Linked DNA regions of Homo sapiens. The protein of the gene in region 3 interacts with the protein of the main gene of each other region in a pairwise test. Each region holds a gene or a part of one and is shown on either strand. Other genes may lie near its edges.

Region 1 (8,936 bases), on a different chromosome or scaffold from region 3:
GTAGCATCCCCTTAGCATCTTTCTAGCCAATGAGCCCCCTCCCCAGGAGGAGGGATGGCCTGACTGAAACAGGTGAGAGTTTGCTTCCCCCTTTCAGCAGCATTCTTTTTAGATTTAGGTACTGAAGAATCCCAGTGAGTTCTGCATTTGTATCTTGCAAGTTTGTATAAACCCAATACAGGAAATAAAATGAATGGTTTGTATATGTGGTGTGTGTCTCCTACTCGGTGTCTGCCCTTGTGGTGCTTGTGGGGTTGTGGGGTTGGCAGCTTGTGGGGTTGGCAGGAAAGGGGAATGGGGGCTGGGAGGTAGGCTGGGTGTAAAACATGTGCTCCTTCCTCCCCTGTGCCTCAGCCTGCACTTTTTGGCCTCCATCCCCAGGAGCTGGGGAAGCGAGGGTATGCTACCAACACCAGCATCATCATTTCAGTTCAGGTGACCCCAGATCAGGGTTTGCCCCAAGGTTCTGTATAATGGCAGTATCAGATGCTTCAGGCCCTGGCACCTTCCCTTGGTTTGACTCATACAAAGGACAGGACAGCAGGAGAAGAGAATGAATTCCCAGCCTTTCTTGATTACTACACAATGCGCTATATTGCTGCTTTACAAGAAGTTGTATAATTTGGTGGGAGGTATGAGACCACCCCAGTTCTCATTCTGCCTCCATCCCTTTGGTTTATTTCTCTTGGCAGGTGTTTTGTGGTTATCAGGTATTGACACTCTGTGTGAAGGGCTTTACCAGTGCTTCTCAATTTGGAATCTTACTGTGGGGACCAAGAGTCAAGAAGCCTGGTAAATTTTGTGGGGTGGGTAGTGGAAGAGAAGAGGTGCGCCCGGGAGACTGGCAGGCTCAGCGGGGCTTCTGCATGTTGTCCGAGGGAGGGATGGCTCAAGAAAAAGCGAGAAGGAGAGATGAGAAAGCAAGCTTCCTCTAATTCCTGATCTTGCATCGGCTTGGCTTTCATGGCTGAAGCTGAATTCTGGACACCTGTTCCCATTTCTAAGGGCTAGTACGGGGGAGGTCATTTTTAAGATTCGACTCTATTTTGGATTTTGTCACATCCCCAGGATGATGTCCTTTGTGAACCCGGGAGAGTTGTGACCAGATGTAGGCTCTGGGGGAGGGCCTGCATCAGAGGCTGGGGTAGGGGGATGCATATTGGAGAACTCGTCACTTTCTGGGGGGCTGAGCCTTTATCTTCAGGCTCCATCTGAGCCAGAGCCAGTGGCAAGGGCTTGGGGAGGAGGTGGAATGTGAGACCACAGAGTACCACCGGGCATCACTGCATCCACCGACAAGGGCTGCCTCCTCCTCTCAAGAGATGATGCCAGCTGGTGCCTGCTCCATCCCCTACCAGATCAAGCCAGGTTGGGATTTGTAAAAAGGGGGTAGTAGCTGAGAAATGTAAATGAAAATGCAATAGCAGAATGTCCTTTAAGGAGCAGAGCTGTGTAACTGCATGATCACTTATTTATTCTTGAAGACAGGCACGACAGGGTCAGGCAGGCAGCCAAGCCTCAGACCCTGCTGCTGCCAGGGAACTGGGGCCACGCCACGTCCCCCTCCTCATCCCGAGCCTCACCTCGTTACTGAGACCAATGAGAGAAGGTGGCATGTCATCCTCAACTCCTGCCCCTAGCAACATGCTCCTTGCTAGCTGCATGAAGATTTGGACAAGTCATTAAATTCTTGAGTCTCAGTTCCCTCATCTGGAAAATGGGTATATTAACCACCATCTTATGGAACTTTCAAGAAAGACAAATGAGAAAATGGATGAAAATCACTTTGAAAACTCAAATTCACTTCCAAATGTGAGGAAGTGGAAGTGGTGATGTTGCAAAGGCTCCCTGGCCACCTGCAGGGGCCTGATGTGGGAAGAGGGAGAAGGTTTTCCAGGACCCCTCCTTTACTAGCTCTACAGCCTTTGCTGGAAGACATCACCAGGGCCCGTGCCATCCCTGAGGTGTCCCTCCCCTGCCACTTCTATGCCTCCAGCCCAGGGAGTAACTGCACTACCCCACACTTTTCTCATCATGGCAGGGTCATGAGACTGCCATGGGTCGAGGACTAGCACCAGCCTTCCCGGCGTTGTCCCTATGAAGGTCCCTCTCCAGAAGGATGAGTTGTGGACAGCGCCTCTGGGCTTAGCTCCAGTACCCAGAGAATCAGGCCCGGAGGGCCCAGTATCATGAGCGTTTAATTCTCCTGAGCTCACAGGTGGGTTCCATGGCTGGGGGTGGGGGCAGGAAGGGGCATCCCCAGTTGCTATTTTATACACCTGCGGGAGTGGTTTAGCACCACAATTTGAGATGACAGTAGAAGTCTTTCATATAAAGCATATTAACAGTATACTAATAATAACATTAATAACAATAGTAATTATTATAACTATACAGTAACAGGAATAACAGTGGTTCATTAAGTGCTTACTATGTGCCAGGTACCTGGTTCTATGCACTTCACATGCATTTACTCATGAATCCTCATCCTCTATGTCAGTCATAGGTACTATAATTATCCAAGAAGCTGAGGCACAGAAAGGATAAATAAAATGCCCAAGGCTTCACGAAGCCAGGATGAAGCTCTTAACCTACGAGTGATTTCAACAGGGATGATTCTGGCCCCTAGGGGCATTTGGTTGTCTCAATCATAAGGGTGCAAAACTCTTGCTGGCATTTCGAGACTGCAATGCACAGGACAGATTTCCAAAACAAAGAATTGTCCCATATCCTGTACTACTTTCGAATGTACAACTGAACTAAACCCACTACCAGTAAAAGTTGGTCATACTTCAATTGACAGTAATACCAAAAGGTTTTGTAAGCTTTTAAAAATAAATTTCATGAACACTCAGAAAGTTAGGAGATGGTTATTATGGAGCAGAAGCTTAAAAGGAATAAAGACATTGTCTTAAAATTATTGAATAATCTACTCCATGCATTGTCTACACAAAGGATTATAAGATTTCAGCTACTATGTATTTGATTGAAAACAGTTCTGATCAGTAGGTGATACTGAATAAACGAAGAAATTGACTGAAAATATTTAACAGAGGATATGTGAGAGAAGCAAACATGGAATCAGAGACACTTGAGATGCAGAAGATCTCACTGAGTTTCCTTAATAAAAGTTTTTAGGGTTTATTTCATATTATTGCCATCCTTTATATGTTTAGTTTTTTTGGAGCCCAAGGATGCTATGTTGTCATAATTATGTGTGGAAATGTTGTGTCCTGTCTTTACAACACTGTCCCGGGTGTCCACATGCAATTGCTCTAAACCACTTTTATCTTCTTTTCTTTTCCCAATCCATCCTCTATCCCCCATTGCCCATTGGAAATATGTGATCTCTAAGGCCTTTTAAGATCCCAGAGACTGAATTTTACCTCAACGCTGATATGTTTCAAGACAGAGGTTGATGTGTCTGTGGTACTCTATGGCGACCCCATTCCATGGGAGCTATTTTGACAATACACACATACCTAAGACTGAGTTCCTTTGCATGCACATCATACTTCTATATTATCTCCACCTTGTGCTCTCTAATTTGCCTTGCTATGTTATCCCTATTTCAATTAAGATGCTTTCCCTCTCATCATATGCAAGTACGTCTGGTCTGTTATTCCTTATCTAACAGTTTTTATTCTATGTTCACTTCCTGCTACTCTTTCATTTTCTTGCATGTGTGTGATTTTTGTTTTTGCATAGAATGGCTCATCTTCTATTTCTCTTAAATTCAAACATATATTATGTGTGGGTGCAAGCAATCTGCCTATTTCATTTATGTCTTCTGGTAAGTCTTGCCTGAACATTTATATATTGAAAGACATCATGTTTTATTATAATTTATCTTTTTGTTTCTTTTTAAAAAATTATGTTAGCTTTCCTTGGTTTTGTTGTTGTTGTTTGGTTTGTTTTTTTTTGAGACAGGATCTCGCTCTGCTACCCAGGCTGGAGTGCATGGCTTGATCACAGCTCATCGCAGCCTCGACCTTCTGGGCTCAAGCAATCCTCCTACCTTAGCCTCCCCAGTAGCTGGGACTACAGGCAGGTACCACCACATCCGGCTAATTTTTTATTTTTATTATTGTAGAGACAAGGTCTCACTATGTTGCTCAGGCTGGTCTCAAACTCCTGGGCTCAAGCAATCCTCCTGCCTTGGCCTCCCAAAATGCTGGGATTACAGACATAATGCATTTTGTATGCCAGGCCTATTTGCATTTTTAAATGATGTATATAGGTAGTCTTTGAAATTCATTTCTTCATTTCTGGACACAGAAGACATTGCAAAGTGGATGTTGGCTCTCCTGGCATCAATGCCACGTCAGAACCACTGCTCTGCGATGGGAAAAAAGGATGTTAGGAACTAACTGCCTCTCTTTTTGCAGGCCCAAAGGACGAATCCATGTCTACACAGCTGGTGGGTAGACTAGAACCAGGCCTCCTAAATTGTGCAGTCCTGCCCCAACCCCAAATTCAGGGCTTTGTCTTCCATAGCTCAACATCACAGTCAGTCCAAAGCTTGGACGCCGCTTGGGGAAAGGAGGTCGAAGACCTTCACGTCTAACTTCCCCCATGGCGCTTTTGCCATTGATTTAACCCGATCTGGCTCTGCCATTAGGTCAACAACAGGCTTTGTGCTCAGTCGCTCATCGCCTCCCAGCGCCTAGCATGTGCAATAGCAGAGAGCAAAAAGCTTGACTTTCAAGATGAATTTAGTACATTCCCAAAGGGATGCGCAGATGCCAACTCTTCCCACACTATCAAACCAAGCAAGAAACTTGAGCACCCCCTAGATTCCAATGCTTCCACATACAATCTAAGTTTCGCGGAGCAGACGAGAGCCGCAGAACACCGCGAGGTGCGAGGAAAGGGTCAGGTGGGCGGTGCCTTCCCCGGGCAGGCGCGGCAGGTGGAGGGGCGGGGCATTGCCCTACCGGAAAACGGGAGGAGGGAGCTGGCGAGTAGAAGCACCTGCGTGGTGTGCGGGGGTGGAGCGGGGGCTGGAGGGAGAGTTAATGATTTGCCACAGGCTCATTTCGCAACTTAACCAAGGGTCAGCTTCCCGTGACCATGTACCAGCTGCGTCCTCTGGGCCACGCTCCACTTGCCCGCTTCCACCCGGAAAGCCCCCCAGGCTGAGTGCGGCATGATCTCCATCACCGAATGGCAGAGTAAGTGGGATGAGCGGGGCTGCAATGGGCTATCCAGGCCAGGCTCCCTGCCGGCTGGCTCTCTCTCCCAGCTGGGCTCTCTGTCACTACAAGCGTGACCTCTGGAGCCAGGGGCTGGGAGATGCTGTGCTGGCACCCTGGGGCAGCAGGCAGGGTGGGGTGTGGCTCCCTACCCTCCAGCGGGTGGGAGTTGCTCAGGGCCCACAGGTAGCTAGAGGCTGGTGCCCAGGGGGCCTGGCAGGTTCCCCATTCACACTGACCCCTTTCCCATCCCGGGTTCTTAGAACTGGGTTGCCACAAAGGTGGACTCAGGAGGCCTCTGCCCATTCAGACATCTTTCCCCACACCATCAAGGTCTCCTGTGGCCCTGGGGGCTTCTTATAAAAAACTAAACTCCACTCCCCTGACCAAACCACCATACCCTCACTCCTAAACATCCTTCCCCTTCTTTTGGGGGAAGAGGTAGGGAGGAGGTCTTGGAACAAGTCTGGGGCCATGGGAAGAACCGTGGCTCTGTGGGCTTCATTTGGGTGAGTTACTTAAAGCCTCTGAGCCTTGGTTTTTCATCTGAGAATTGGTGACAACATTCTTTTGTTCACTCAACAGATTTGTCTCTGCTGTGTGCCAAGCACTGTGTTGGATATAGAGTGTCCAACATTAAATGAAACTGACTCCCTGCTTACATTCTAGAGAGGGGAGACAGGTAATTAACAGAAAGAAGTATATAGTATATCAGAAGATGATAAGTCCTCCAGATGAAAATAAAACAAGAGGAGGCTATGGAGTTCGAGGTAGGAGGGGTCGCTATTTTATATAGAGTGGTCAGGGAAGCCTCACTGAGAAGGTGAGCCTTTATTCAGATCTTTTTTCAGAGATCTATAGGAAGTGAGGAAGCAAAGCCACGCAGCTCTCTGGAGGGGAAATGTTCAGGAAGCAGGGACAGGCAGTGCAAAGGCCCTGAGGCATTAGCATACTTGGTGTGTTTGAAGAACAACAAGGAGGTGGGTATACCTGGAGCAAAGTGAGGTGAGGGGAGAATCATAGGAGTTTAGGTCAGGGATGTCACTGAGGGGTCAGGACACTGGAGACTTATAGACCATGGTAATGACCTTGGTTTTGTGCTATGGTGTGATATGTTCTATTTCTATGTTTAAAAGATCATTCTGGGTGCTGGGTTGAGAATAGACTGTGGAGGTATGAAGGCAGCAGCAGGGAAGCCAGTTCTTTTTTTTTTTTTTTTTTTTTGAGACAGAGTCTCACTCTGTCGCTCAGGTTGGAGTACAGTGGCATGATCTCTGCTCACTGCAACCTCCACCTCCTGGGTTCAAGCGATTCTCCTGCCTCAGCCTCCTAAGTAGCTGGGGTTACGGGCACCCACCACCACACCTGGCTAATTTTTGTATTTTTAGTAGAGATGGGGTTTCTCCACGTTTACCAGGTTGGTCTCGAACTCCTGACTTCTCAAGTGATCCACCTGCCTGAGCCTCCCAAAGTGCTGGGATTACAGGCGTGAGCCACCGCGCCCAGCCAGGGAAGCCAGTCCTGAGTGTGTGAAGGTGGAGACCAAGGTGTTAGCAGGAGATTAGCGGGGCGTGGTCCATGCTGGATCTGCCTTGAGGAAAGCGTTGAGGATTTGCTGACGGTTTGGACATAGGGTGTGAGAGAAAGAGGAGTCAAGAATGCCTTGTATATTTTTTAGCCTGTGCAATGGGAAGGGTTGAGTGGGGGGAAGCAGGAATTGGGCTTTAGATGTGTTGAGTCTGTTTGTGCTGTTAGACATCCGGGTGAGATGTCAGGTAGGTGGTTGGGTATGTGAGTCTGGAGTTCCAGGTAGAGGCCTGGGCTGGAGACAGAAATGTGGGAATAATCTGCATATACATGGTTTTTAGGACTATGAGCATCCATGAGATCACCGAGGGCAGGCACAGTTTCTCACCTCCCCACTATTGACATTTTGGGGCAGGATAATTCTTTGTTGTGGGGGCCTGTCCTGTACATTATAGGATATCAGCAGCATCCCTGGCCTCTATCCACTACATGCCAGTAGCACCCCCACTCCAAGTTGTGACAATAAAAAATGTCTTCAAACATTGCCAGATGTCCCCTGGGAAACAAATTTCCATCCCGCACCCCGCTTCCCCACCCACAATCCCCTCAGCCCAGTTGAGAATCATGGACCTGGCGAATAAAAATATAGAGAGAGGTGGGTTGGGTCCTCAACCCAGTGGCACGCTGACACTTTGTTAAACCAATTAGCCTGCAAGTAATATACTCTTACCAAATATGATAAGCAAGTCCTGTGAGAGAGAGAAATGAGGGATTTAGGTCAGGGAAGAGAGTGGACCAGCTTTCCCTGAGCAACTGACATTTCAGCTGAGACCTGAATGATGAGGATGCATTGTCAAGTAACAAGTGAGAGGCAGGGTGTTGCAGACCAGGAAACTGCATGTACGAAGGCCCTGAGTCAAGAGGGCTCACATGGAAGCCATGGAGAACAGTGTGGTTGGAGCATGGCAGGCAATAGGGACAGTGGCAGGAGATGAGGTGGGCAGGCAGGCCTGGGCCCCACCAGGCAGGGCCTGTGAGCTGTGGTGTGGATGAGAAGGCTCTGCTGCAGTCTAATCTCAGTGGGCAGCCGTGAAGGAGTCTAGGCAGTATGCTAACATGATCAGGTTGTATGTTTTGCAAGACCTTTGAGCGCCGTGTGGAGAAGGACTGGGAGGGTGCAGGAATAAAGCAGGAGGCCAAATGGGGGCTGCTGCATACGTCCAGGAAAGAGATGATCGTGGCCGGGAATTAGGTGTTAAGAATGGAGAGAAATGGACAGCTTTCAACATGTATCTTGGAAGAAGAAAAGAAAACTTAGCTGTGGATTTCATGGGGGAGGGGTGGGCTTCTGCGTTAAGTGGTGGGGTGGGCGGTGGTGACATGTTTACTCATTTGAGGACAACCAAGGGAGGCACAAGTTGAAGGAGGGAAGATAAATAGACCAGTTTGGGATTGAAGATTAGCCCAGTTCAAGATGGCTGAGAGAAAACCAGGCAGATATGCCAAGTAAGCAGCTAGATATGAGTTTCAAAGCCCAAAGAGAGGCATGGACTAGAAAGAGAGACATCAGTGTCATCAGCATACAAGGGAGGTTTGAAGACGTGAGAGGCTGGGTGTGGTGGCTCATGCCTGTAATCTCAGCACTTTGGGAGGATCGCTTGAGGCCAGGAGTTCAAGACCAGCCTGAGCACATTGCAAAACCCCTGTCTCAACAACAAAAAAATTTAAACCAATTTTAAAAAATTAGCTGGGCATGGTGGCCAAGTGCCTGTAGTCCCAGCTACTCAGGAGACTGAGGTAGAAGGATCCCTTGAGCCCAGGAGTTCAAGGCTGCAGTGAGCTATGATTGTGCCATTGCACTCCAGCCTAGGCAACAGAGCGAGATCCCAGCTTTAAGACAAAATTAAAAACAAAAATAAACACATGGGAATACATGTGGAAATAGAATGAGAAGAGAAGTGAGCTTGGGCACAAGCCCTGTGCAATTCAAATCCCAAGAAGAAGAGAGAGAAGTAGGAGCTGGCAGAGGAGACAGAGAAAGGGCAGTTAGAGCAGTAGGAAGAAAATCAAGAACGTGTTGTGCACAAACCAAGAGAAAGGCTGTTTCAACACGGCAGTGGTCAGTTCTAACAGATGATGGTTCACACCTGCCCATTGGATCTGGTAACATGAAGGTCATTAATGGCCAAGGCAAGAGCATTGCCTGCAGAAGTG
Region 2 (5,781 bases), on a different chromosome or scaffold from region 3:
TGGAACCACACACACACAAAAACTCCTGAATAGTCAAAGCAATCGTTGGCAAAAAGAATAAAAGCTGGAGGCATCACACTACCTTCCTTCAAAGTATACCGCAAAACTATAGTAACCAAAACAGCATGGTATTGGCATAAAAACAAACACATAGACCAATGGAACAGAATAGAGAACCCAGAAATAAATCCATGTATTTACAGCTAACTCACTTTTGACAAAGGCACCAAGAACTTACACTGGGGAAAGAACAGTCTCTTCAACAAATAGTGCTGAGAAAACTGGTTATCTACATGCAGAAGAATGAGACCAGACCCCTATTTCTCACCCTACACAAAATTCAAATGTATTAAAGACTTAAATATAAGACCTGAAACTATGAAACTACTAGAAGAAAACACTGGGAAAATGCTTCAGGAAACTGGTGTGGGCAAATATTTTTGGGGTAAAACCTCAAAAGCACAGACAACCAAAGTAAAAATTGACAAATAGGATTACATCAAGCTAAAAAGTTTCTGCACAACAAAGGAAACAATCAACAGCCACTATGCAAAACAGTTTGGAGGTTCCTCAGAAAACTACCATATGACTCAGCAATCCTACTGCTGGGTATATATCCAAAAGAAAGAAAATCAGTATATCAAAGAGATGTCTGCATGTTCATATTTATTGCAGCACTATTCACAATAGCCAAGATACAGAATTAACCCAAGAGTCCATCAACAGATGGATAAAGAAAATGTGCTATATATACACGATGAAATATTATTCAGCCATGACAATGGCTGAATAATGAATAAAATCCTGTCAATTGCAGCAACATCATAGAATTGGAGGATATTAAGTGATATAAGCCAGGCACAGAAAGACAAATATCATCAAGATGAATCATGTTCTCAGTCATATGTGGGAGCTATAAAAATTGATCTCATGGAGGTAGTAAATACAATGGTGGTTACCAGAGGCTGGAAAGGGTAGCAGGCAGGGAGGGATGAAGAGGGATTGATTACTGGGTACAAAAATACAGTTAGATAAAATGAATAAGTTCTAATATTTGGTAGCACAATAAGGTGACTATAGTTAACAACAATTTATTATATGTTTTAAAAGGCCTAGAAGATCTGGAATGTTCCCAATACAAAGAAATGATAAATGTTTCAGGTAATAGATATCCCAATTACCCTGATGTGGTTATTACACATTGTATGCTAATATCAAAATATCCCATATATCCCAAAAGTATGTACAACTATTATGTAACAATAAAAAAATAAAAATTAAAAAAATAAAGTATATGAGAGGATATGCATAGGCTACATGCAAATACTACACAATTTTATACAAGGGACTTGGACATCTGTGGATTTTGGTATCCACAGGGGGTCCTGGAACCATTCTTCTATGAATACTGACAGATGACTGTATATGCAGTAAGAGTCCTTAGGGTGTTGCTTTTAAGTCAACTACCAATAGCAAATTATAGAAGGGTTACCACTCTGTTTTTTTTTAATCACATTATTTGATTGGTAGTTTGACATTTAGATAAGTTGCGTGAAGGTTTGTAGAAAGATATAATAGGACTTTAAGATAAATCAAACAAGCAATTTCAGTATATAGAAAATTTAATATGAAATCACTTAAAATATTTCAACATTAAGAAGTCTTAATTCAGTGCCTTGGCATGAGACATTTAAAAGCATGTTTGGGTCTAATCTCAAATTAGTTCAGGGGAACAGAAATAGCTGAAAATTTATGTATATGTGTATGTATATATATATATACACACACATCTGTATATACATACATGTATATATTCAAATTATATACATATAAAGATATTTGTAGATTCAAGATATATAGGGATTATATATCTATATATATTATATGTGTGTCTATACAGATATATATATATATATATTCATCTTTCTGTGTGTGTGTGTATATATATCCACACACACATATAAAATCTATTGTTGCTTAGTGGTGGAATTCTCTAATTTTACTCATACGCATATTTTGGAAAGCTTATCTCCAAAAGGGGCACATTAATCGTACATGGAACAGAACCCTTCTCTTCTACTTTAATTAATTTCATTTTAAATTTATTTATTTCTATTCTTCCACTTTTAACTATTATAGTCTCCTTTAAAGTTGTTAATTCAGATAGGAAACTAAACTCACTTTTGTGGAATCAGAGATGATTCTGAGTTGGAAAGAACCCGAGTATGCACTTGGGCCTGTTTCCTGTCTTCAGGCAGAGAGATAAACTAAAGCTAAGAGAGATGGACTGCCTGTTCTTTGCCTAAAAGGTCACATTTCTCAACTACTGGGGTACAAACTATATTTCATGAAGTAATTTTTGTAAAATAATTTTTCTTTAGCTACAGACACAGTAAAGTAGCCATGTATAATTAAGTTTTTAGCTTGCCTCAAATATGACCTTTGTTCTTCTAGAAAAATTTCCTCCAAAATCAGTAGCAGTAGCAAGTATGGCAGAAAGAGAAATGTGGTTCTCCATGGGAGAGAGACTATTTCAAGCAGTCATATCTTTTTAGCAAAATGTTTTGTGAGTTTTTTGGGAGTGTGACACTTTTAGTGCACACTCAAAGACTTGTGTTTTCACATGTATAGAAGTTCATCTGGGGGTTTCCAAAGCCTTCCGTATTTTCACTTATGTGTGGCCTTACAAAATGTAGTTTTTAAAAAATCTATGGTTTACTAAATGTAACACGTTAAAAATCACTGAAAAATTTGCCAATGTAAATCCTAAATTTGGGTTTACTAAGTTAAAATGAAGCGTTAAGACCAAAAAAACATTGAAAATTTTATTTTCACAGGGGATTTGCATAAAAAGAACATTATTTTTGTTCTGTGTATATATAAGTATTTTTGTTTCCTTAACTTGTTTCTGTTGCCCACACACAACTAGGAGAAGATGCTTTTCTTTATTTTGGTTTGGCCAAAGATGCTAATGGTTAAATTATGAAGGACTTTGTTTTACTTATGTTAAGTGGTGAAAACTGTAGTTCTTAATCTATGAAGAATTCTCTAGGTGGCTATACAAGAAAAATACAAAAAGTTAGGAAAACATGTAAACGTAAGTTATGAGGTATTTCATAGATACAGTGCCCATACAAATTCTCTTTCCCACAATTTTCAACTGCCAGATCTCTTGCTTTAGTCTTTTTTCCTTATATTTGGAGAAACAGAAGAGTTTGACATAAAAGTCCCTTTGAGGATGTGAGGGTTGCAGTAGTTTACAGCAGGGTCAGAAAATGAAAGTAATAAAGCAATATTTACATGTTTTTGTATAAGAACAAAAATATTTCCTTAAAAAGTTGTTAAAAGTTTTTTAGTCCTATAAACACTCACTTTTATAGGGCACATGATTGTCTGTGTGACTTCTCTTTCCAGAGGAAGACTTTTTTATTTTTAAATTCTAGGAAAGCATGACTTATTCAAATTGGATTTTCCATGCTATATTTAGTTTTACAGATGTGTTTAGTTCTAAAACTGTGGTTTACTGTATTCTGGGGAGAGCATGTATATAAAAAAACCCAGGAAACCCTTACACCCAACTTAGACACAGTCAGTTTTAACACTCCATTGTGATCTCTCAATTCTTACAGCTTATTACTTCCATTAAGAAGAAATCTCTGAATTCTCTGCATCTAATTTTCAATGGCTACAGTCTGAGAAACTGACCCATTATCACTTTTTCTAAATAGCCAAGTTCTCAAAGTTTCTGAAAGCTCTTTGATCTTTTTTTTCTGGGAGCGAAATAGGTTGTTCTTCTTATATAACAAGAATCAGGAATTCCCAGCAAACAGATTTCATTACGTATAAAGCATATTCCAGAAACACGCAGATCACACATGAATATGCTCTCAGTCATCATAAACAGGCATTCACTCAAGGGGTAAACCAGTAATGAGCCAAACATACGTACTCATGCAAATGTACAATTGACAGCAAATTATTTTAGATCCTAATGTCATTTCAGTGTTAAAAATGAGCTGGGAGACAGCTCCTGTGACATTTGGTATGAAAGCTTTAGATTGCAATTTTCATGTAGAAGTAGCTTCATATCACATCTCGTGAGTTTCGTATCGCACAGCAGAGGACCATGCTGAATATCATGCCAAAGATCTGAAACAGAAGAAACACTCATCAGTGACTTTGAAACGGGTACTGATAGGTAAAAAGTTCAGCAGACTTCCTGGGTGTCTAACTCAAGTTAACAAATAATTATAACCAATAATTACCAGTCACAAATGACATTTTAGTATGTTACTTAAGGTTGGCTATGGGGTAAATAATTCTAGATTAACTGTTTAAATGTGTATTATTATTGTTAACAAGTAACAAGGCTCTGCTTTAAAAGAACCTACCCTGCTTCAGAATTATAGAACCGTTCTGAATACCTGTGAAAGACAGACACAATACTGGCTTTGGAATTTTATATTTCAGGTTAATCCTAGATCTCTTTTATATGTTTATTTTGAAAACTGTGTCCATAACCACTTGTTGTTTAGATATGCTTGTGGTCTAAATAATTTTCTATTGCTGGAAAAGCTCTGATTTTTTACAACAGTGTCCATACATCCAAAAATGGAGTATCAGCTGGGTGCAGTGGCTCATGCCTGCAATCCCAGCACTTTGGGAGGCTGTGGTGGGAGGATCGCTTGAGCTCAGGAGTTCTAGACCAGCCTGGGAAACATGGTGAAACCCTGTCACTACAAAAAATACAAAAATTAGCTGAGCATGGTGGTGTGTCCCTGCAGTCCCAGGTGCTTGGCAAGCTGAGGCGGGAGGATTATTGAGCCCAGGAGGTCGAGGCTGCAGTGAGCTGTGATTGCACCACTTCACTCCCTGGTGACAGAGACCCTGTCTCACAAAAAAAGAAAAAAAAAGTGGAGCATCACTTCATTCTCAGTCCATTTTTAAGGGCAAACGATGCTTCACTGTTTAATTCAATAGTTTTAGCAAAACATAAACTAAAGGGTTTATACTATGGTATTATTGACTTTTACCTTTTGGATAGTTCTCTGAGAAGTTAAATACTTGAGTGAAATCAATATCCACTTCCATGGTTTGAATAGAAGAATGCCAAAGAGTCTTCTTGTCCGCTATTATTTCCCCTACAATTTTGTAGAGCCCATGGAACCCTATCTGTGGGCACCATTCCATAAACTACTGTCAATGCTTATTTTAAAAAATGGGTACTATAACTTTCTGGTTCTCTCCTCAATTCCATCCTAAGTCAGACTAGGATCTGTAAGTGCTAAATTCAATAAGATATGAATGATCAGTTGTTTTGAAAAGGGAGGGGCAGAAGCAGGTAAGGGCATGGCCAGGAACAGGATTTCAAGCTTCTGGATGACAGGACTCAGTACCAGTGTGTAGCACGGGCGACACCCAATGCACTTTTAGTTAGCTGATTACATTGTGCAACTCTCACTTTACAGAGAAAAGAACTAACGAAGAAACCTGGGGGTGCCGACTCAAGATAGGCTCACTATGGGCATTTCCCCTTTATCATTGCCATAAGGTTGGATGTAATCCCTACCCATCCTGGTTTCAGTGAGACTCCTTCAGTCTCAGCCTACTGCCGACACGAGTCAGGGGTGAATGCTTCTAGGCTGCTCATTTGCTGAGATTGTGAAACTCTCCATTATGCAGCACACGCTCAGACCTGCCTCAGGACTGTCCTTTGGGGAGCTGCAGAACTGCAGCCAGGCTATCCCCAGAGCAGGTGGGGAGGACCTGAGAAATGTCCCT
Region 3 (9,132 bases):
TTGGGAGGCCGAGGCGGGTGGATCACGAGGTCAGGAGATTGAGACCATCCTGGCTAACACGGTGAAACCCCATCTCTACTAAAAAATACAAAAAAACCTAGCCGGGTGTGGTGGTGGGCGCCTGTAGTCCCAGCTACTCGGGAGGCTGAAGCAGGAGAATGGCGTGAACCCGGGAGGCGGAGCTTGCAGTGAGCCGAGATCGCGCCACTGCACTCCAGCCTGGGGGACAGAGCGAGACTCCGTCTCAAAAAAAAAAAAAAAAAAAAAGAAAACCATGCCCTTGTTGTCTTCGGTGTTCTACCTCAAACATGCACATCCCTTTTGAATTTTATATAAATGAAAACATACTGCATACATTATTTTGTGGTTAGCTTCTTCTATTTAACACAACATTTGAGAAATTCATCTGCATTGCTTTTGTTTATCTGGAGACAGAGTCTCGCTCTGTCACCCAGACTGGAGTGCAGTGGTGCTATCTTGGCTCACTGCAACCTCTGCCTCCCAGGTTCAAGCAGTTCTCATGCCTTAGCCTCCCAAGCAGTTAAGACTATAGGCATGTGCCACCATGCCCAGTTAATTTTTTGTATTTTATTTTTTCTGAGATGGAGCCTTGCTCTGTTGCCCAGGATGCAGTACAGTAGCGCAATCTTGGCTCACTGCAACCTCTGCCTCTTGGATTCAAGCAATTCTACTGCCTCAGCCTCCCGAATAGCTGGGATTACAGGTGCTCACCACCATACCTGGCTAATTTTTTTTTGTATGTTTAGTAGAGACGGGGTTTCACCATGTTGGACAGACTGGTCTTGAACTCCTGACCTCTGGTGATCTGCCTGCTTCAGCCTACCAAACTGCTAGGATTACAGGCATGAGCCACTGCACCTGGCTTCATCTGCGTTGTTGAGCGTAGCTACAGTTTGTTCATTTGCATTGCTATATAGTGTTCTCTTGCATGGCTATTGCATGGAACTTTTTTTTTTTTTTGAGACGGAGTCTTGCTCTGTTGCCCAGGATGGAGTGCAGTAGCGCAATCTCGTCTCACTGCAACCTTTGCCTCCCAGGTTCAAGCTATTCTCCTGCCTCAGCCTCCTAAGTAGCTGGGATTACAGGCACGTGCCACCATGCCCAGCTAATTTTTGTATTTTTGGTAGAGACGGGGTTTTACCATGTTGGTCAGGCTGGTCTCAAATTCCTGACCTCGTGATCCACTGGCCTCTGCCTCCCAAAGTGCTGGGATTACAGGCATGAGCCACCACACCCGGCCACACAGAACATATTTTATCCATCCTACTATTTGTAGCCACTGGAGTTGTTTCCAGCTTAGGATTATTACAAACAATGTTGTATGCTGTATTCTTGTACATCTATATTGTTTATACATGTGCAGGAGTTTTCCTAGTATGTATACATATATAGAATTGTTGTAGGGTATATGCATCTTTTCTAGATAAAAGCAGCCAGGCATAGTGGCTCACATCTATAATCCCAGTACTTCGGGAGGCTGAGGTGGGAGGATCACTTTGAGTTCAGGAGTTTGAGACCAGCCTGGACAACATGGTGAGACCCTATCTCTTAAAAAAAAAAAAGCAAACCTTTTTGTTACTTTTCAGTTATTTTTTCATATTTATAACCCAAGTCTTTTAAGGAAAAGATCATGCCTTAAACCATTCTCAATGATTCCCTCTCGGAGGCCCATCACTAAAATGTATTTGCACAAGGTACTTAATTTTTAACCAGTGACAGTGACAGATAAGATTCAAACCAGGTTTCCTCTCCACCTACCTCGGAGGCAGGCCACACCTGCCAGAAGTAGCAGCAATGTCCCAGCATAGTGAGAAAACGGCACCACTTTGGACAAACTCAAGTAACCTGGGAAGGGAGAGGGACAATGTGAGACCCTCTCCGCAATGTCCCTCAGCTCCTCTTCCCAGTTCAGCCCCAACCTCCACCCCACACTCCCTGTTTGGAACAGCCATACCCTAAGAGGAAGAAGATGCCTGATGGAAGAGGGAAGCCAAGCCATCTTCACAGGTCCCCTCTCCTCTTTAGGGAGCTGGCTCATCTGCCAACAACCTGCCCATTTGCTACCCCACCACCTTTGAAACCACACTGACCTTTCCTGTACAAGTAGAAGAAGGCGAAGGGAGAGGAGTAATAAGAGATGGACCAGAATACTGAAGCCTGCAGCAGAGAGACAGGGACAGGCAATCAATACACACACACACACACACCTGCCATTCCAGGCATATACTATACACTCTGAGCAAGATGGACAACCTGAGGGATATCATATCATATTTGGTGTATGACACCATGAATACAGTAGGTGCTCAGTATTTGTTGAAAAGTAGTGTGTCAATGTAATGGAGGCTGGGAAAATTTGGTACAGGCTCTATTTTCTTCCTCTGGAATTATGGAAGAATTATGTCTTCCATCTCCAGACATAATTCCATCACATTTAAAGGCAGTCTCTCTGTCTACTCAAGTTAATCAAGCCTTTTCAATTGGCCCTGCTCAGGACAGCCCCTGGCCTGGTCCCCAAGAGATGCGCAAACGTCACCACAGGAACTGTGCCAGAAAGAACAGCTGTCCCTGCAGCCAAAGAGGTTAGTTGCCAGGGAGGACAGGTCACTGGGGAACTGCAGGACTTAGCACCTGCAGATGGTCCCAAGAGTAAACATGTTTTCCTTACGGCTCAGGTTGCCCCCAGAGAAAGCAGTGCTACATACCAAAGGGGAGTGCCAAGTATGCACATTTAGAGTGTGCCTGTGTGTCTGTGTTGGAGAGGTCTGCTGCAGAGCCCAGGGCATCCCCCAACCCCAGGGCACTGTTGCTCCCAAGTTAGGGAGGGCTAAGTTCAAGAGGACAGGTGGGTCTGAAAGATGCAGAGTCCCAGATGCCAGGGTAGACATACCAGTGCCAGGATGCTGTCAGCATGTTTCTCCAGGGCACGGGGCTGATAGTACGTATCCTGCCAAAACAGATGGCCTCCTTAAGGACCCTGCCCACTGGCAGGTCCTTTCCCTTCCCTTTCAGAAGCCCTGCTGTGTGTCCTCTGGTTCTAGTCTCGTTGACTATCTCTCTTGAAACATCCCTGGCCCCCACAGAAACTCCTCTTCCTCACCCTCACTCTGAACCTAATTTCCCACCCCTGACCATGGGAACAAACACAGGGAGCTGGATTTGGAAGCAAAAGTGAAAGCAGCATTGGACGATTTTTGCTCCTTTTCCACAGCCTAGTTTCAAATGGATTGCAGGCGCGTGCATGTGGGGAGAAGGGTTAGTTTGAGAAGAAAGAAAAGACACCTAGACAATCTAAGAAGGAAAGAAAAGCATCAGAAATAAGAGTAGTTGACTAAGAAGAGAATGTGGGTAGGAGCGGGCAGTTTGTAGGAGACAGTAACACAATGAGACAACTGATAAAAAGGAAGAGAATATTTAGAACAGCCTACCACCACCCGCCAGCTCTCCAGAATACAATGACTCGGGTCTCCAGGCTAGGTTGGGCGGGGGTTGAGGGGAGGACCGACGGATACAGGATCTGTAAAAGTCATTCTGAAATTCAAGGCGAGGGTAAAGGGAAGATAAAAACAGAGCCGGGGGAGGCATGAAGAGGCACTGAAGAAGAGGAAACTGGGAGTCTGACAGCAAAATTCAACGGCTCCCCAGTCCGCGCAGGGTCTCTTCCCGGGACTCAAGACTCAACTGGGACCGGCACGAACCACGACACACAGGGTCGGGGGGACGCGGAGAGGAAAGAACAAAGAGTGGCAGTCGGAATGAGAAAGCGGTAAAGAGCGAAAAAGAAAGGAGGCGGCCAGTCCGTAGGCGTGACTTTAACTCAGGAAGCACACAGAGCGCAGATTTTGCGGATAACTGGCTTGACAAGCAGGCTCCCCTTATTTCCCATTATGGGCACTTCTGGGGAGCAAAAGGCCGTAAAGGGTTTGGACTGTACCACGTTCTTCGGTGGGGAGGAACTCGACTCACCCAGGAGCTGGAATGGGGGGCAGTGACTGCCGTTGGCGTCTCAGGGACGCTGGCCGGGGCCCTTTCAGAGTCCCTCTCCCGGTAGATTTTGTAGAGCCGGGGGCCTAGGACGCAGCTCAGCAGCTTCGCCATGGCCCCGGCTCGGGCCGCTGCTCTTCCAGCAGCAGGTCCCCCTGCCGGCCCCGCCCTCCCTGCCTCTGAGGTGTTGTGTGCCCTTGACGTCAGCCCGTACCGGCTCCGCCTCCGGGCGAGTTGCGACATTTTCAGTGCTTCCTGAGAAGAGTTTCGCGCAGTTGGAGCTACGGGTACAGCAGTGGTCCGAAACTAGTGGAAGACCACTAGAACGCGGAGAATCAGAAAATTACCGGGCATGGTTCAATAATTTTTTTCTGTCTCATTATTGGCAGACTCTAGAGCGACAGCGGAAACGAGGGGTGAGATTAGGAGTACTTGATAAGAGTAACCGAAAACATAAGGTGTCTAGGAATGTATCTAGTACAAGAAATGCAAGGTTTTATGAAGAAAACTATAAAAAGTTATTGAAAAGGCAAACTGGCCCGGCCCGGCGCAGTGGCTCACGCCTGTAGTCCTAGCACTTTGGGAGGCCGAGGCGGGGGGATCACTTGAGGCCAGGAGTTCGAGACCAGCCTGGCCAACATGGTGAAACCCCATCTCTACTAAAAATACAAAAATTAGCCTGGCATGGGTGGTGCGCGCCTGTAATCCCAGCTACTCGGGAGGCCGAGACGCGAGAATCGCTTGAACGCGGGAGGCAGAGGTTGCAGTGAGCCGAGATCTTCCCACTGCACTTCAGCCTTGGTGACAGAGCAAGACTCTGTCTCTAAATAAATAAATAAAGGTAAACTGGCCCAGCGCGGTGGCTCACGCCTGTAATTCCAACACTTTGGGTGGCCGAGGGATGATTGCTTGCGTCCAGGAGTTCCAGGCCATGGCTCATGCCTGTAATTCCAACACTTGGGGTGGCTGAGAGAGGATTGCTTGCGCCCTGGAGTTCCAAGCCAGCCCAGGCAACATAGTGAGACCCCATCTCTACACAAAATACCAAGGGGGAAAAAAAAAAGACCTAGCAGGGTGTGGTGGTGCCCACCTGTAGTCCCAGCTACTTGGGAGGCCAAGGTGGGAGGGTCGCTTGAGCCCGGGAGTTTGAGATCGCTCCATGCACTCCAGCCTGGGTGACAGAGCCAGACCCTGCCTCAAAATAATAACAATAATAATTGAAAAAATAAAAAAAGAAAGAGGTAAACGAAAAGCTTTTCAATAAATGGAAAGCTACACCATGGTCCTGGATACGAAAATTCAGCACAGTAAGATATGCGGAATATTTGTAAAAAGAAAATAAATGAATCATTACTGTTATGCATGAACTGGATCTTAAAACCATGATGCTGAGTGAAAATAGAAAGCCACAGAAGAATGTATACGTGATACTAGTATATTAGATTCAAAAACACATAAAATTTAATGATAAAGCAAGTGGAGAAGAAAGAGAAAATTCAGAATTGTGGTTACACAGCATAGAGGATCTCTGACTGAAACGGAATATTCTTTTTTTCTGTTTTTTTTTTTTTTTTTTTTTGAGACAGGGTCTAGCTCTTTCACCCAGGCTGGAGCACAGTGGCACAATCACGGCTCACTGCCCTGATCCTCCACCTGCTGGGCTCAACCATCTTTCTGCCTCAACCTCCTGAGTAGCTGGGACTATAGGCCCACACCACCATACTCGGCTAATTTTACAAGGTCTCACCATGTTGCCCAGGCTGGTCTCGAACTCCTGGGCTCAAGTGAACCTCCTGCTTTGGCCTCACAGAGTGCTGGGATTACAGGCATGAGCCACTGTGCCTGGCCTGGAATATTCTATTTCTTTTTCTTTTTTTTTTTTCGAGACCGAGTTTCGCTCTTATTGCCCAGGCTGGAGTGCAATGGCCCGATCTCGGCTCACCACAACCTCTGCCTCTGGGGTTCAAGCGATTCTCCTGCCTCAGCCTCCCAAGTAGCTGAGATTACAGGCATGTACCACCATGCCCTGCTAATTTTTTTATTTTTAGTAGAGATGGGGTTTCTCCATGTTGGTCAGGCTGGTCTTGAACTCCTGACCTCAGGTGATCCGCCTGTCTCATCCTCCCAAAGTGGTGGGATTACAGGCATGAGCAACCGAGTCCGGCCTGGAATATTCTATTTATTTATTTATTTATTTATTTATTATTTATTTATTTTTTTGAGACGGAGTCTCGCTCTGTCACCAGGCTGGAGTATAGTGGCATGATCTCTGCTCACCGCAGCCTCTGCCTCCTGAGTTCAAGCGATTCTCCTGCCTCAGCCTCCTGAGTAGCTGGGACTACAGGCATCCACCACCACACTCAGCTAATTTTTGTATTTTTAGTAGAGACAGGGTTTCACCATGTTGGCCAGGATAGTCTCGATCTCTTGACCTCGTGATCCGCCTGCCTCAGCCTCCCAAAGTGCTGGGATTACAGGCGTGAGCCACGGCGTCTGGCCTTTATTTTCAGAGTTGGGGTCTTGCTCTGTTGCCCAACCTCAAACTTCTGGCTTCAATCAACCCTCCCACCTTGGCCTCCAAAAGTGTTAGGATTGTAGACATGAGCCACCATGCCTGGCCAGGCTTCTTTTACTCTCATTATATTGTGAGATTCAACTTTGTTGCAAATCACTAGGTTTGTTCATTCTCATTGCTGTCCAGTCTTCTACTCTGTTAAGCATTTATCCATTATATAGTTGTACTTCATATAGTTTTTGGTATGTATGGAATATTTCATCAAAATAATTTTAAAAATAAATAAATTACACATTAAAACTGTAATAACTGCATGAAGATCTGCCTTAGGAGTTTTTGCCGTTCAGAAGGATGAATCAGCCCGTTAGCCTTGTCCCTGAGTAATAATTTAATACACTTATTAGGGTTTCAGGAGAGGTCCGGGGTATGCCAGACAACCACAGGGAAAGTCATTCCAAATCATTTACGGGACACTGACTCGATACACAGTCTTGTGCTGGGTTCTGTGGAGGACCAACATAAAAACTCAAACTCAGTTTCTTCACTCATAGCTGACATTTCTTTTCTTTTCTTTTCTTTTTCTTTTTTTTTTTTTTTTTTTTTTTTTTTGAGATGAAGTCTCGCTCTGTCTCCCAGGCTGGAGTGCAGTAGCACGATCTCGGCTCACTGCAACCTCCACCTCCCGGGTTCAAGCGATTCTGGTGCCTCTCAGCTTCCTAAGTAGCTGGGATTACAGGCACATGTCACCACGCCTGGCTAATTTTTGTATTTTTTGTAGAGACAGGGTTTCGCCATGTTGGCCACGCTGGTCTCGAACTCCTGACCTCAAGTGATCCACCCAACTCATGGCTGACCTTTCTTAGGAGTGAAAGAGACCTCAGAATGTACTTCCAGACTGACAAGAGCTAGACAGGCAGGACCACTTCTCTGCATGGTTTTTTGCATGGAAAGTCTTTATTTGAGCCCCTTAGCTGATGTGGAATCAGAAGAGCAAAAAGGTCATCTTCAGAGTGGCCTGGGCTGGGTCCTTTTCTCTCCAGGATAGAAAAGTGGTGGTCACTTTATCCCTAGTAGACATGCTGCTGGGCTTTATCGCCCCAGCATTCCCATCCCCTCCAGAGCCCCTTGTCACTCCAGACCAGCGAGTGTGGGCCTTTATCTGGACTCTGCTTCCTCCCTGGGGACACCAGGTCTTGGAGCAAGAGAACTTGGCAGGCTCTCCCCATGGCAGTCTTATTCCTCCTCCTGTTCCTATGTGGAACTCCCCAGGCTGCAGGTAAGGGGCAAGAGGTACGGGATTCCTTAGCTATTTGCAAGGTTGGGGAGGGACTACTGCTCTTTCTCCTAGGAGCCTGGCGAAGGCATCTGACTCAAGAAGATAGAATTACCCCAACCAACCTCCTCCTGCCTCTGACACTAGGGAAGACCCAGAGGCAACGAGGGTCCAGGTTATGCAGTTTCCTTTATAAAATAAGAAGAATGAGTAAATGCTTCCAGAAAAGTAGAAATGAGTAGAAGAGATGTGGGCATTTGCCAACTTTCAGCCTTTTCCCTCTTGCCCTCAGACCCCCTCACTGGCTGGGGGAGAGAGGAGGAAAGCCCTTACCCTCTTCTCTCCACCTGTCTTATTTTTGTAGCTGTCACTTGAGAAATGTGGTCACCAGCCAGGCCTGTGCTGGGGGACCCCAGAAGGGAAGGAAGCCAGGGTTGAAGATCAAATGGGGGGTTATTGATCTGATGGAGGTCTCTGGCCTCATACAACCCTCTTCCCACAGACAACATGCAGGCCATCTATGTGGCCTTGGGGGAGGCAGTAGAGCTGCCATGTCCCTCACCACCTACTCTACATGGGGACGAACACCTGTCATGGTTCTGCAGCCCTGCAGCAGGCTCCTTCACCACCCTGGTAGCCCAAGTCCAAGTGGGCAGGCCAGCCCCAGACCCTGGAAAACCAGGAAGGGAATCCAGGCTCAGACTGCTGGGGAACTATTCTTTGTGGTTGGAGGGATCCAAAGAGGAAGATGCCGGGCGGTACTGGTGCGCTGTGCTAGGTCAGCACCACAACTACCAGAACTGGAGGGTGTACGACGTCTTGGTGCTCAAAGGTGAGTGGGGGCATGCAGACCAGGGGCTACTGTGGCCCAGGAAGTCCAGGTGAAGAACTGAGGAATCCCTCTCTCCCCTACAGGATCCCAGTTATCTGCAAGGGCTGCAGATGGATCCCCCTGCAATGTCCTCCTGTGCTCTGTGGTCCCCAGCAGACGCATGGACTCTGTGACCTGGCAGGAAGGGAAGGGTCCCGTGAGGGGCCGTGTTCAGTCCTTCTGGGGCAGTGAGGCTGCCCTGCTCTTGGTGTGTCCTGGGGAGGGGCTTTCTGAGCCCAGGAGCCGAAGACCAAGAATCATCCGCTGCCTCATGACTCACAACAAAGGGGTCAGCTTTAGCCTGGCAGGTAAACTGAGGAAGGAGACGGAAAGGGATGTTCTTTCACTTCAGCCTCCCAAGTAGCTGGAATTACAGGCGCCCGCCACCATGCCTGGATAATTTTTTGTACTTTTAGTAGAGACGAGATTTCACCATTTTGGCCAGGCTGGTATCAACCTCCTGACTTC
Region 4 (8,788 bases), on a different chromosome or scaffold from region 3:
TTGCTTCCCCTCAAAAGTCAGAATCCACCATGTAATTATTCAAAACTGGGAAACTAAAAGGTTAAAAAAAATCAACTAAAAATTGTACGCTTGTTAGTATACACGGTTTCATGTAGCAGGGAGACCACATAATTGCTCTTTGTGATTAACCCTCTGGCCCTTAAAATAGTAAAGTCAGAAAATTAAAATAAGTAATATATACTTAAAATACTTAAAACCTGTATCTATATCCATTTTCAATAGATGTGACAGTTAAGAAATGACTGAAATTATATTATTATAAATGTTTACTGCATAACAGTACAAAATTGATGTTCCCAAAAAGAGGGTAAAAAAATCTTTAACTGACATTAAACATCTTAAGTAATTTGGAAAAATCCCAAGGTTGAAATGTAACTATCAGGGAACAACGAAAAATGCTTTCATGCATGTACACATGTTAAGTAACAAATAAGCAAACCCCAAGTCAATACAGTACATCAATGACACTTAAATAACATTATGAATATAAAAAGAAAGGATAAAATGTTGACTGCTATTGATGAAAAAGCATTTCAACAATATACACAAAATGATACTAAACAGCTTTTTAAAAAAGATGTCCTAAGAAGATCAAGCCACAATAAGTTAGTGTTTTCCATAATACATGCTAAATTATTTGATCCCATATCTATACTGTTACTGTCTTAATTCCTAAATGTTGTGACAGCATATTTAATTACTGAGGTACATTAGTTTACATCTTTTTATAGGTATTCTAAGAGGATTAACTTTTCGTTTCCAGTTTTTCATCTTCTTCACCTCCTCCAAAGAAAATTAAAGGAAACATTCCTAGAATGCAGCCAATAGTCACCCCAACAGCTTTGCCCTAAGGAAACAAAAGAGAACATTTTTAAAGTTACTTTATCTCTGATAACAAGAAGGCAGAGAAAAAATCTCACCAGCTCTTCTCAATATATTTGGATTTGCTACCCTTCATATATATTCCTCTTCAATATTTATCCCTGTGTATACCTAATTATATGTAGATATAATCATTATGTAAACATAGCTTTGTTTTCTTCCTCAATCCGTACCCCTGCATAGCCACACATTTTCTCACAAACTCTTTTCCAAACTGCTACACAAACTTAAAGACTTCTAAGTTCAACTGAATTGACGGGTCTATATTCTACTTAAATCTCTCTTTACCGCCATAGCCACTGCTACTTCTTCAACATTATAAGTGAAATAACAATAAGCATTTCCATGTATATTTCTTCCCCAATGATTTGTTTAAAAGTCAAACAGTATTAATATTTGTGCATCTTCATGAAGCATTCATCCTTGACAACGCTGCACATACTTACATAGCAATTTCAGTATACATAAATGTAGACACACATACCAATTATCCTGCAACTTCACCTACATTATAAAAATTTTATTTCATTTTTATTTATTTTATTTGTTTTAGAGACAGGGTCTCCCTTTGTCACCTAGGCTGGAACGCAGTGGTATGATCATAACCCACTGCAGCCTTGGCTCAAGCCATCTTCCTGATCTCTTCCCGAACTCTTTGGCTCAAGCGAGCCTCCTGACTCAGTCTCCCCAGTAACTAGAACTACAGACACATGCCACTATGCCTAGATAATTTTGTTACTTTTATTATTTTTTTTTTTTGTAGAGCCAGGGTCTCCCTATGTTGCCCAGGCTGATCTTGAACTCCTGGCTTCAAGAAATCCTCCCACCTTGGCCTCCCAAATGAGATTACAGGCTCTGGGAGCCACCACACCCAGATCATTATAAAAATTTAAAATTGTTATTTTTGTAAATGGTTTTCAAAATTTGCATTCCTATGATGACTATCAAGTTTATATACTTTTCAATTAAGTTTCATTTCCTCATACAAATATTTATTGAGAAGCTACTATGTGTCAAACTCTGTACTGGGTGTACCATGGAGATGGACTAATCTTATGCAGTCTGTCTCTCTCCTCCAGGAACTTCTAGTTAGGTACACAGGGAAAGACAAAATAAGTTCTATCAAACATTACAGTTACTATGATAGCTACATAATCTTTAGTCTTGAATGAAATGTTTTCTCTTATACATTGTCTATTTAGCTATCATATCCTACAGTTTTTTTTTTGTTTGTTTTTTTTTTGAGACGGAGTCTCTCTCTGTGGCCCAGGTTGGAGTGCAGTGATGTAATCTCGACTCACTGCAAGCTCCGTCTCCTGGGTTCATGCCATTCTCCTGCCTCAGCCTCCTGAGTAGCTGGGACCACAGGTGCCCACCACCACGCCCGGCTAATTTTTTGTATTTTTAGTAGAGCCGGGGTTTCACTGTATTAGCCAGGATGGTCTCGATCTCCTGACCTCATGATCCACCCGCCTCGGCCTCCCAAAGTGCTGGAATTACAGGTGTGAGCCACCCCGCCCAGCCCACATCCTACAGTTTTTCTAACAAATTTAATAGTAGACATTAATATTTTGACAATAGCTTGCATAAAAATTTTTCAACTCTTATTTTGAGGCTTTTGGTGGTGGTAGTGGTATTAGTAGTATGACCACTGCTTGATATTAATAGTCAAAACTGTTATTTTCGTTATGCCAAAACTTTAAAAGGTATCATTCATGCAGAGTTTTAACAAGAAGAAATTTTCTTCATTCCACATGCTGATAAAGTTAATCCTAGCTTCTTGTTTTTTGACTTTAACATATTTACTCATTTGAATATATGCATAGAGAAATCATTATATTCTATTTCAGACTCCTGACTTTCCCATATACAGAAAATAACCATTGCCAATAGGCCCCACTTTCACTTCCCACCCATTCTGTTAAATTCCTCTTGCAACCAAGGCTTTCCTTGCCCCTCACTTTAGGAATACCAGTCAGTGATTTCTGACCCAATTATCTCAAGAGATATAATGTCAATAGGGTGGAGAAGAGGAAAAAAAGTGATATACTTTTCTCACTCCCTGATCCAGGACCTGAAACAAATTTTTCCATTGTGAAAACATTTATTTATACATTATCATTATGTCTTACAATACTCTAGGCCCCATAGTTAACTACACTGGGGCTAATTGTAGAACTTGAGTCCCATCTGTAATACTGTTTTATAAGAAAATATTTTTTGAATTTCAAACAACCAAATTACAAGTGAGGTTTTAAAATACACCTGTGTCAACTGGAACCTGCATGTGTATCTGTATTTATTCTATCATGGGTAAATTTCAGAGTTAGCTTTTGTCATGAGTAGATGGCTGGTCACTAACTTCAAATACTTCAGGCTGTATAGAATCAAAATGTTATGTTACAGAGTAGAAGATTTGATTCTAAAAACAAGCAGAGTCAACAACTAAGGAACAGAATCACTGTTGCCATAAACCAGTGAGGGGTTTATCACAATACACACGCAGACACACACACACTCAATATAGTAATACTAGTTTAGTAATCTGATGCTTTTGTCATAGAGAAGAGAAAATGAACCTGCTTTTAATACAGAAAGAAAACAATTATTATGCCCCAGGAAAATAAACTTCTGATCCCAACTTTAATGCTAAAATTTTTAAGACAAATTGCTAGAATGTTAGAATATCCTTATTCCCTCAAAACTCCAGCTGGTATCAGGGGCTAGTCTCACTTTACTTACAAATTGTAAGATATGGACACATGTAAACTAAAAGGAAAAGCCCAAAATTAACATTCTACTTTCTTAAAAGACTTTTCAACCTTTATAAAGTAAAAATTACAACAAGCAAATAGGTCCTCATTTTGTTTCTCCACACTCTTCCTACATTTTGATTGAAAAGCAAACACTTCCCTGGTATAGTTGTGATCCTTCTACTACTCATATTTTAAAGGGTAGTAATTATTGCAGATTTAAAGTGATTTAAAGTGATTAGTGATGAATTTAACTCTATATTACCTATGTGTATGTTTTTGTACTCTGTATGAATATTTTGCAGGTAAAAATTGTTTACTTCCAAAACATTCAATATCTTCATTAAAATAAATTCCATCTAACTTAACATTAATTTTATATTTTATTCTTCTTCTTCACCTCCCGTTAGTGTTTCAATTCATTGTCATTTGATTTTTCTTCTTCCATCAGTCCATAGAAATTGCTCAGAAATGATTATCAATGAGCAACTACATACCAAATCCAAAAACAAAAAAAAATTTTCAGAAATTTTATTTGATTTCTTTATATCAAGAGGAATTGGTTATCATTCATTACTTCTTAAAACTTCGTCCTTGATAGCTCCCATAAGACTATGAGCTCTTAGGTATTTTCTAGGGTTCTTTAATTCTGCACATTTTCTCTGGAACAACAGTTCTCAAATTTTAATGTACAACAGAATTAAAACACAAATTGCTGGGTTCCGTCTCCAGAACTTTTCATTTTGTGAATCTGTAGCAGGCACATTTTAAGGCGGCCTCCATGATACCTTCCTTCTGGTATTTAAGTCTTTGCATAATCTCCTCCCCTTGAGCATAGGTAGGATGCTCTAACTTGCTTTGAGTAATAGGAAAGGTGATGGGGTGTTACTCCTGTGATTATATTACATTACATAAGGCTCCATCTTGCCATCCTGCCAGCAGACTCATTCCCTTTCTCCCTTGCTGGCTCTGAAGATGCAGGCTGCCATGTTGTGAGAGGGTCTACTGAGAGGGCCACATGGCAAAGAACTGCAGGTGACCCGTAGATCGGGGTGTCCAATCTTTTGGCTTCCCTGGGCCACATTGGAAGAAGAAGAATTTTCTTGGGCCACACATAAAATACACTAACACTAACGATAGCTGATAAGCTTAAAAAAAATCACAGAAAAAATCTCATAATGTTTTAAGAAAGTTTACCAATTTGTGGTAAACTTTTGGATTACCAAAAGCGAGTTGCACAAGCTTGCTCTAGATGGAGGGAGGCCTCCAGGACATGAGAGTGCAACAGCAAGCCAGAGGTTAGGTCCCTCACAGCCACAAAAAAATTAATTTTGCCAAAGACCTGGGTGAGCCTGGAAGTGGATTCATCACCAATTGAGCTTCTAGACAGGAACGAAGTCCTAGCTGGACATGATTGCAGCCTTCCAGAGGACCCATTTAAGCTATTCCTGATCTGACCCACAGAAAATGAGAGATAACAAATATATGTTGTTTTAAGCTGCTGAATTTGCATGTTTTTGTTTTTTTTTTTTTTTTTTTTTTTGAGATGGAGTCTCACTCTGTCACCCAGGCTGGAGTGCAATGGCTTGATCTCGGCTCACTGCAACCTCTGCCTCCCAAGTTCAAGCAATTCTCCTGCCTCTGCCTCCTGAGTAAGCTGGGATTACAGGCGCCTGCCACCACGCCCAGCTAATTTTTGTATTTTCAATAGAGACAGGGTTTCACCATGCTGATCAGACTGGTCTCAAACTCCTGACCTCAGGTGATCCACCCGCCTCGGCCTCCCAAAGTGCTGGGATTACAAGCATGAGCCACCCCATCCAGCTGCAATAATTTACACAATAATAGATAGGTCTAAGATGAAGACTGAGTGTTTGCATTTCTAAGAAGTTACCAGGTAATGTTGATCCTGCTGATGCTGGCACCACATTTTGAGAACCACTCTCCTATGAAATCTCATCTTCTCCCATGGTTTGAACAATCATCTACCTTTTCAGTGAGGCCTACAGTGACTCTCCTATTGAATATTGCAGTCTGCTTCCATCCTAGCACTCCTAGCCTCTTCTACCTCGCTCTGTTTTCCCTTTTTATTCTCATAACACATATAAACTTCTAATATGCTAAATATTTTTATTTATCAGATTGTTTATTGTCTGTCTCCTCACTGCTTGAATGTAAGATCTATCAGAAATAAGATCTTATTTTGTTAACCAATGTATTCAAAACTCCTGTATCTCTACTTGGCATATAATACGTAAACAATAAGTATTTGTTGAATGAAGGAGTGACAATACCCATTATCACTAACTCTGACCTATCTAACTCTTGACTCTAACCTAAATGCCTACTAGGTGTCACCACTCAAATGTCCTATTAGTATCTCAAATTCAATGCGTCCAAAATAGAACTCATTATCTTCCCTTACAAGCTTATTCCTCCTCCTTTTTTTCTTGATTTTATTGATGGCATCATGATCCATCCAGTTTACTTCTTACTTAAAACTCCCCTGGCTCTCCATCACTTAGGTAAGAGGCTCAAGCTCCTTAGCATTCACATACAATAGCTTTCCTGTCTGATCCCTGCTTACTTCTCCAATGTTGTCTCCTGCTGCTGCTTATACCTACAGCTACTATATATTATATTCCTAAAGTCGGTTCTTGTATTTACCTAAATATACCCTTTTTTTATCATCCTCTTCTAATTGCTAGTCAGTATGCTTGGAACTCCTCTTATTCATCTAGTAAATGTCTCATCTATAATTCAAAAATCGGCTTAGATCTAATAATAACCAAGAAATCTCCCCACCAAAAGAAGTTACTCCCCACAGTGTTAATTCCCTTACCTGTATCATGGTTATATCTTGTACATAATTCATTACTGCATATGTCATACCAAATTATAATTTGTTTATATGTTTGGTTTTCCACCTAAACAAGTTCCTCAAGGATAACCACAGTTTATTATTCGTTTTATGTTCTTTAGACCCCAACCTATAAGAGATACTCCCTAATACTAAGTGAATTACAAAATATTTTTTAAAAATTAAGTATACCTACAAAAAATAAGGAGTTAATAACACAAATTACTGTTCTTCTGAAAACTGCCAACGTCTAGACAATTTTTGTTAAAAACTCCATTCAAACCAATTTTAGTCTCAAATTTCTCAAGGGCCTGAACTATACAGAATCTTGCTCTGGCTACCCAACTCATTATCATAAACCATGTAAATTACTTACCAAATGTGTACTAAGACGTGTTTGCCACATGTCAACTTGCTTTGGTGTGAGATCAGGAATTGACAGGCCTAACCTGGAAGCCAATGCTTCAACGTAGCCTGCAAGTCTTTGAAGAAACAAGACAATATGATATATAGGTTATGTTTCAATAAAGCCTTTACAAAAGCAAACAAAACAAAACAAAGACATGAGGACAAAATATAGGTTTTTAAAAAGACATGCAAATGTCCTCATATAGTAAACTAATTACTACAAGGAGAAACAAGATAATTTTACATTTGCACTTGTACTCTAGAAATGACATAAACATTCTTTACAACTTTTAATTTTTATTGCATATATTGTTTAAAAATATTTTATTAACATATTTAACACAAAGGAAAATTAATGACAGAGCAAGTATTCTCTATTATTATTTTTAAAAACAATTCAAGGTATGTAACAATTTGTACAGATAATTAGAATTTCTGCAATTATTCCAAACTCAAAGCAAAGCACTTTAACATATGATACAAATTAGTAACTTATCAGACAGCAAAAGTTTCCAAAATTCCTCAGATTGGTAAACTAACAAAAACACCTTAGAACTGTCAGGCCAATCTCAAGTATTTTATCAATTCTAAGTTGCCATCATTTATTGGATACATCCTTACTTTATGAACTGTAAGAAAGAAAAAATATTGCTAATTAAACTATGTATACTACCAACAATAAGATGGATCCTGATATCAGATACGTTAAAATGCATCTGAGAATGCCTAAAATGTGGTATTTGTTATTGAATGATACCCCCCAAAAGAGAGAAGAGAAATAGTTTTTAAATACAAAGACTTCCAGAAAAATCTTCATCTCTAAACAAAAACAATTGTTTTATGATGCAATATATAGCTAAATGGCTTTAAAATCTCTTAGATCATTTGGTTCTATTAAATATATCAGAAAGCTATACAATGACTGTAATATTCTCATTATTTACTTTAATGTTGGAAACTGGGAATAGAATGTTTAAGAGATGATATCATGATACATTTATGCCAGGAATTCGAAGAATATAAAATTCTTGCCATGGTCCTAAAACAAAGAAACTTTGTTTTTAACTGTGGCTTTGGCCCCAAACTCCAGTGCAGAAGTCTAATATAAAAGGTTAAGGTTAGATCACTTAAAAAGCTGCTTTGCCTAGATTATAGGGCTAAGTAAACTTCTAAGAAAAAATTCAAATCTGAAATTGTAACACTCAAATGAGTCAAGGAAAGAAGAGACAAAATCAAAGACAGAGCAAGACAGAGCATATTTATCATAATAATGTCCACTTAGTCTAATTTATACTCCCCCAGGCTTCCCCAAGCTCAGGAAGCAACTCAGGCCATCTGCTACTTGGAACAAGAATGTAAAGAGAGAGAGAAAGCTGGCCTTTTCTAAATAGATGTCCTTAGTTTGTTTCATTATTCCTGCCACATAAAGTAAAGAGAGCAAAAAACAGCCAAACCCATATATGCTTTGGCCATTATTTCCTTTGAAAGTTCCCCCCTCTAGAAAACATGTCTAGTCAGTATCCTCAAATTCGAGCCATATCCCTTCTCTTTGGGTTTTCTGGGAGTAGGGTGAGGTGGAATAATGAGAGAGGTTCTTCCTTTTACTCCTGTCTTACCCTTGGAGATGTCTATAAAATACATATAAATACTTCAGTAAACACAAATTCCATTTTGCTTACATTATGGTAAATTTAGAATAAACTTTTGCATACATCAGAACCACTCATGAAAATTACTAAACACAACTGCCAGGGCTCCCTCTCCAGAGACACTAATAATGTATAACTGGGATATCACCCAGGCATCTATATTTGATGGATACCAAAGATTTAGTACTATTAGTTTAGAAAAAGTAAATTTGAAA

The links.
Region 1: the proteins of ABHD16A (region 3) and GOLT1A interact in binary tests that used the Homo sapiens proteins (3 or more experiments, as listed by UniProt).
Region 2: the proteins of ABHD16A (region 3) and TSPAN2 interact in binary tests that used the Homo sapiens proteins (3 or more experiments, as listed by UniProt).
Region 4: the proteins of ABHD16A (region 3) and TMEM65 interact in binary tests that used the Homo sapiens proteins (3 or more experiments, as listed by UniProt).

Annotation. Positions count from the first base shown.
Region 1 is NC_000001.11:204,210,120-204,219,055, reverse strand, and holds the start of GOLT1A (vesicle transport protein GOT1A), read left to right. Parts: upstream 1-5,067; 5' UTR 5,068-5,149; coding exon 5,150-5,174; intron 5,175-8,936. UniProt on the Homo sapiens protein: May be involved in fusion of ER-derived transport vesicles with the Golgi complex.
Region 2 is NC_000001.11:115,046,407-115,052,187, forward strand, and holds the end of TSPAN2 (tetraspanin-2), read right to left. Parts: intron 4,150-5,781; coding exon 4,084-4,149; 3' UTR 1,605-4,083; downstream 1-1,604. UniProt on the Homo sapiens protein: May play a role in signalling in oligodendrocytes in the early stages of their terminal differentiation into myelin-forming glia and may also function in stabilizing the mature sheath.
Region 3 is NC_000006.12:31,699,163-31,708,294, forward strand, and holds the start of ABHD16A (phosphatidylserine lipase ABHD16A), read right to left. Parts: upstream 4,163-9,132; 5' UTR 4,120-4,162; coding exon 3,988-4,119; intron 3,797-3,987; exon of another isoform or gene 3,607-3,796; coding exon of another isoform or gene 3,450-3,606; intron 2,969-3,449; coding exon 2,912-2,968; intron 2,179-2,911; coding exon 2,112-2,178; intron 1,930-2,111; exon of another isoform or gene 1,867-1,929; coding exon 1,780-1,866; intron 1-1,779. Other genes in the region: LY6G6F-LY6G6D protein precursor, read left to right, coding at 7,745-7,796, 8,296-8,625, 8,709-8,972; LY6G6F (lymphocyte antigen 6 complex locus protein G6f precursor), read left to right, coding at 7,745-7,796, 8,296-8,625, 8,709-8,972. UniProt on the Homo sapiens protein: Phosphatidylserine (PS) lipase that mediates the hydrolysis of phosphatidylserine to generate lysophosphatidylserine (LPS). LPS constitutes a class of signaling lipids that regulates immunological and neurological processes.
Region 4 is NC_000008.11:124,313,194-124,321,981, forward strand, and holds part of TMEM65 (transmembrane protein 65), read right to left. Parts: intron 6,999-8,788; coding exon 6,893-6,998; intron 869-6,892; coding exon 767-868; 3' UTR 1-766. UniProt on the Homo sapiens protein: Essential for maintaining proper cardiac intercalated disk (ICD) structure and function as well as cardiac conduction velocity in the heart.